Regions from separate parts of the Homo sapiens genome. Here region 2 is linked to region 1. Evidence: fine-mapped expression QTL. A gene starts in region 1. The other region holds a variant in brackets. All regions are shown on one strand. Distances are between the middles of the regions.

What was found. PIP is the estimated chance that this variant, and not a neighbour inherited with it, causes the effect.
Region 2: its variant is the best candidate, but not a certain one, in a credible set for the expression of OLFML3 in whole blood (TOPMed, PIP 0.62).

The regions. Positions count from the first base shown.
Region 1 is chr1:113,977,885-113,980,796 of GRCh38, forward strand. It overlaps OLFML3 (olfactomedin like 3), which reads left to right and starts at 1,590. Exons shown (of 3, transcript NM_020190.5): 1 at 1,590-1,746; 2 at 2,448-2,733. The coding sequence starts at 1,633. RefSeq lists an enhancer at 834-1,667.
Region 2 is chr1:114,130,545-114,133,456 of GRCh38, forward strand. The region is part of intron 3 of SYT6 (synaptotagmin 6); the gene reads right to left. Among named protein-coding and RNA genes, the nearest start is that of SYT6, 22 kb to the right of the region's middle. The variant C/G (reference allele first, on the strand shown) is at 1,420.

The DNA of each region.
Region 1 (2,912 bases):
TTTGAACATCAGTAGAGTACTAGAGACAATTTCATTCTTCACACAAATCTCCATACTGGAAATGAATAGGGTTTGGCAGGGAATACTTCCCAAGAATGCAGTGTCCAGGGTCCTTACTTCACATCATCTGGATCTGACCCTTTGAAAGAGGTAGAAGACTTCTGAGACCGGCTAATTAAGCTTTGTTTCCTCATATGTTTTGCCAGATAGCAGTAGCAGAATGAAAAGATGAGTAACCACAGGAAGCTGCTATTTTTCCCCTCCTTTCAAACTGTACTGTTAGAGTCATGGTCCTTTTTACAGAAGGAACCTCTCATCAGATTCTGTTGATTCTAAAGTGAATAGAATTTCTCCCGATAAAGAAATAGGGGTTTGTTTCGATTAATGACTGCAGGTCTCTGAGTAAATGCTCTATTTGATTTTTTTTTTCGGCCCGTGTGTCTACCTTATGGCCCAAGTCTACCTTATGGTGGCCATTAATTCATTTTGGGCTCCTGCAGCCTTAGTTGGGATATAGAAATGAGAAACACTCAGAAATACCCTTTTGGACCACAACCAAGAGAAATAACCAATAGTCTTTTCTCCCAGTGGTAAGGAAGTCAGAATACATTGATCTAGACTGCAACAACATATATATATATATCAGATTCCGCCCCCCCGCAATACATGAATGTATAGTAAATTAGTGTGAACTCACTGAACACTCCTCAGTTTTGGTGAGAGACTATATCTGGCCTCTTTCAAGCAAAGGAAAGCCATGTAAAACAGCGCTGCTGTCAGCCTTAACTTCCAGACGATCGAGTTAATTTACTAACTTCTCAGTGACCTGTTTTTTTTTTTTTTTTAATCTCAGTTATATTTTCTTCCTTGGGCTAAATCAGATATTTGCATAGCCCCCAAAGTAGTAATTGGATAGTCTTGGGGGAAATATGCATTTCAGTGGTGAAAACCCCTGTAAATTCAATATATTTGGCTTTTGTGGAAAATTTTCCTCATGGGGTGAAGTCTAAGCCTTAGTTTCTGTATTATCATGAGAGATGACACCAGCTGCTTAGCACAAGGTGGCGCCAATGAGCTTTAGAATAAGTTGGGCTTGACCACTTGGGCCATTGTTTTCCTGCTTCCTCCCTTCAAGCCTCACCTCCCCAGCTCCCAGCTTCTACTGAACAAGGCTGAAAACCCACTCTATTGCAGGGAAAGGGAAAGATTAATGAAAAATGTCAGTTTCTTAAGTCAGCACTGGTGAAACTTTCCTAAAACAGGAATGGCGTTTGCTGAGTTTTCTCTGGGGTCTCTGCTTTCTGCAGCTAGCTTCCCTGCTTGACTGCCTAGAAGGCCTCTGCTTTCGGGTTTCCATCTCTTTCCCCTCCAGAGGACCCTACAGCCTAGGCGGGAGGTGGTTAAGGCTTCTGGCTGCTGTGCAATGGGGCCATCTGTGTTTGATCAATCCTGGCGGAAAGGAGGGGGTGGGGGTTGTAAAGAGAACTGAAAGCATTCCAGAGTAGTGAGAGAGACCCAGAGATCAGGAGAGAAGGCACCGCCCCCACCCCGCCTCCAAAGCTAACCCTCGGGCTTGAGGGGAAGAGGCTGACTGTACGTTCCTTCTACTCTGGCACCACTCTCCAGGCTGCCATGGGGCCCAGCACCCCTCTCCTCATCTTGTTCCTTTTGTCATGGTCGGGACCCCTCCAAGGACAGCAGCACCACCTTGTGGAGTACATGGAACGCCGACTAGCTGCTTTAGAGGTGAGGGACCCCTTTCTCTTCTAGCCCCGCCTAGAAGGATTCCAGGGCTATTGGTTCAACCAGTTTGTTAGGGATCTGGGGATAACAAGAAAGGGCTCTGTTAGAGTCTACAGAAAATTCTCTCTTAATAAGAGGACCTTCGGAATGACAAGCCCTCCTCTTACCCCACATAGAACAATTCCAAAGCAAATCGACTTTTGCGTTTTACCTCTGGGATTAGATAGAATAAGGGGGCAGAGTGGAAACGAGAGCCAAAATTGTGGGGCTGCATCTCCAGAGAAGGTGATGATTCTGTTGAAGTTGGAGGTTCCCGGGGAATCTATAACTTCCTGTCTTTTTAACAGGTTGAGATCCGTAGCATTTTAGTGTCCGAGAGGATAATTGCTAAGGGAGCAGAGACCTCTTCACACCTTCATGCGCTTAGACCTGCCTAGAGGCTCAGATGGCTCAGTGGCACTGCTCACAGAGAACACAGGCTGGAGGACATGGAGTCGGGGTAGGGGCCTAGGTGAATCTCAGCTAGGCTCTTTGCACATTTAGCACCTCTGCACATCTGGTTTCCTTTTCTGCAGGAGTGGAAGGGGATATTGAAGCCTGGCTGAGTTTGCTCTTTTTTTCCCATTCCTGACTCCCGAGTTGGGCCTCTCCCTGCCTGGGAGTTGTAACCCTGCAGCCTCCCTCCTGATCCCCCATCCCTTCAGGAACGGCTGGCCCAGTGCCAGGACCAGAGTAGTCGGCATGCTGCTGAGCTGCGGGACTTCAAGAACAAGATGCTGCCACTGCTGGAGGTGGCAGAGAAGGAGCGGGAGGCACTCAGAACTGAGGCCGACACCATCTCCGGGAGAGTGGATCGTCTGGAGCGGGAGGTAGACTATCTGGAGACCCAGAACCCAGCTCTGCCCTGTGTAGAGTTTGATGAGAAGGTGACTGGAGGCCCTGGGACCAAAGGCAAGGGAAGAAGGAATGAGAAGTACGATATGGTGACAGGTAAATAATCTGAAAGCAGGCCCCTAACTCTTCTCAGAACCGATATTCTTCCTTCCTTGCTTCTTACTCTTTTTTTCGCTTTGTCCCAGTCCATTGTGGCTCTGTCTTCTGGAATCTGTTTTAGGGAAACCTCTGTAATGCCAGGTCTATTAAGGAGAGGTTCTGGGGATCCAGGCCGC
Region 2 (2,912 bases), 150 kb after region 1:
TATCCCTCATCCCACTCACTCACTCTCCTCGCTTCAATACTCACCTCCATCTCCCCTTTTTCCTTTTAATGTAATGTAAATAATTGTGTTCCTTTCATTAGCTTTTTACTTGCTCTGAAACCTCTGTTCAACTGTGAGTTCCTTGAAAGCAAGGACTATGTTTGCCCCTTCAATACCCAGTTAGTTGTTCTAGGACCCAAGTATGTTCTTTGAGGGCTCGTTGAAGACCTGCTTAGTGGATGAAGATTCAATATGCTTACCTCTTACTCCTGCCCAGGACAGACCTAGAAACCTGAGATCCAAGATGGACACTTCGAAGGCGTTGTCTCAAACTGCTAGTCAATGAGGCTTTGGGAGGCTTCACCCCCGGGTGATTTAATGAGTCACAGTGGATCAATTAGCTGATTCTTTGGCTCTACTTGAAAAAGCCTTTTGTGGCCACTCTGGGATCTCATTCGACTTGAGTGTGTGGGCGTGAGAAGAGGATGCAACTGAAATTTTTTTCAAGCAAGCAAGCAATTTCATTTCAGGAGGCCTGCCTTCCCCCAACATGCTGGGCCAGTGAGGGACCTGCATGTCCCCAAGACAGCAGAACTGGTTTCCTGCCTCCCCCATCAGACTGCGAGGTCTTGAGGGCAGGACTGGAGTTGAAGTCATATTCCCAGCCTGGTGCCTGGTACATAGTAATTACTCTGCAAGTAGTTATTATACAAAGAAAAGAAACCCAATCTTATGTGAGAGAAAATCTCTCTAGATCCTTCCCCAAGTCCAAAGAGAACAGAGGAACATACTCGCCCTCCTCTGACTTCCTCTTTTATCATGCTCTGTCCTTCACTGTCATCAACATAGCCTGGCCTAAAACTTTTCTTTTCTAGAAGCAGCTTTTCTAGAGCAATCTCATCTGACTCTGATTTCTTTTCTTCATGTCTCCTAACACTTCTGCACATCTCTTGCAGTGCAGCAGCTTGCATAATTGTGTTGTAAGCATCCTGAACTGGTCTGTCCCCAGGTGTGTGCCTTGTGTATGAGGGGCTTGGGGACTTGGGGGCACAGGGCATCCCCTACAGTCCTTGTCAGCCTGGGCACCCTGATATGGAGGGCTCTTGCTTTACCTTCCTTTCCATAGCCCAGCCCATGGCTCTGCATTCAACAAGTGCCCAATGATGCACTGACCGGCACATAGTCAGCATTCAATGAATAGCTATTAAACTAAAAAGAAACAATGTCAAACCCACTGCTCACAGAAAGGAAATGGGGGAAAGGGTAAAGGAATCCAATGTCAGCACCAAACCCACTCCCAGAAATGACCAGATTTTGAGATGAGTGAGAGAACCTAACAAGTCCACAAAGAAAAAACAGAACAAAACACTCTTCTGGATCCCCTGATGAGCTGCACAATTTCAGTGTTTATTTTCTGTC[C/G]CAAGAAACAATGTAACCATGCTTCCCTCTGGCGGTGCAAGGATCATGAGTTCAAATCTTGGCTTTATTATTTCTGTTTGGGTGACAATGGGTAAGTCACCTAACCTCAAACCTTCGTTTGTTTATTTACATATGGGGGATGACCATAAGTGTTGTGGTGAGGATGAAACATGGCAAAGCAGGTTGTGCCCTTGGCAGCTAGCAGGAGCTCAATAAGTAATGACCAGCGCATCCCAGTAAATGGGGATCAGAAAGGAGATGGAAGGGAGGGAGCTGAGTGCCAGCATAGGAATGTGGCTCATGGGAAAAAGAGGAGGAAGGGTTGTTGATGGGGCCTCCCCTGTGGCAGAAACCTCCTAGAGGACATTCCCCACGGGCTTGAAGAGAGGCCTGACTCTTTGATATTTAAGGAAAGAGTGGGGATGTCTGGAAATTCTGCCCAGTGGCTTATCACTGTGGGGTTTCGGCCTCTGCTGTGGAGACCACACTCCCGGAGAATGGGTAGCTCTGTTCTGTGAAAGCATGAGAGCCAAGAACTTCTCCATGGGAGAAGCTGAGAATTACAGGATTCTAGAGATGGTTTAATACTGAGGAAAATGCAGCCCAGAGATGGAAAGTCACTTTTTCAAGGTCACACAGAAAACACATGGCATAGCCAAGACAAGAAATAAAAAATGAATAATAATGTCCAACAACCAGTCAGAACAGATGACCTGGACTGAAGGGGAAGGTCAGGCCTGGGAGTGGTACAGAAGTGACACATGGGCTAAGCCAGCAGGAAGGGCACCAGAGGAATAGGGCTCAGCAAGCTGCTCTGTGACAGTGCTGTCCTGGGTGGCTGTGTACTCTGTTTCATTTACTACATATAATAACAATAGGACTAGAAGCCATTATTAATCCCCATCTTGCTGATGTCAAACCTGAGGCACAGTTTAGATAATGTCCCAAGGTTTTAAAGCTAGAAAGTAAGGAAGCTAGAATGCAATTCAGGTTGGGTTGACAATAAAGCCTGCACTCCTTCTGCACAACTCTGCTCATTTCCAAGCCAGAGGCTATTCTACCATTTAAGGCCTCCCTTCCTCCCTGCATACCCTCAGTCCAGGCTCTCTGGAAGTATATGGAACACTTCATCACCCCTAAAACACACACACACACAAATGCATGCCCACGCACATACACATGCATGCACACACACACTCTATCCTAGTCCAAAAACAACACACATGCACACACACACACGCATACTCTAAACTAGTAGGGACCTGGTAAGGCAGGAAGATGGCCGAATCCATTAGCATTACCAAGCACAGCACATATTTATGGCCCCAGTTACAGCCTTTGTCTCCTGCCACAGTGAAGGAGAGGGAATAGCGACAGGAATAGTTGTGTGCGGTGGGGTCTGAGTCCTCTGTAGCAATAACTACAAGATTAGAGATGTTAGCAAACCCGGGTGACGGCAGCTCTATTATAATGATAAATCTACAGCTTTATTT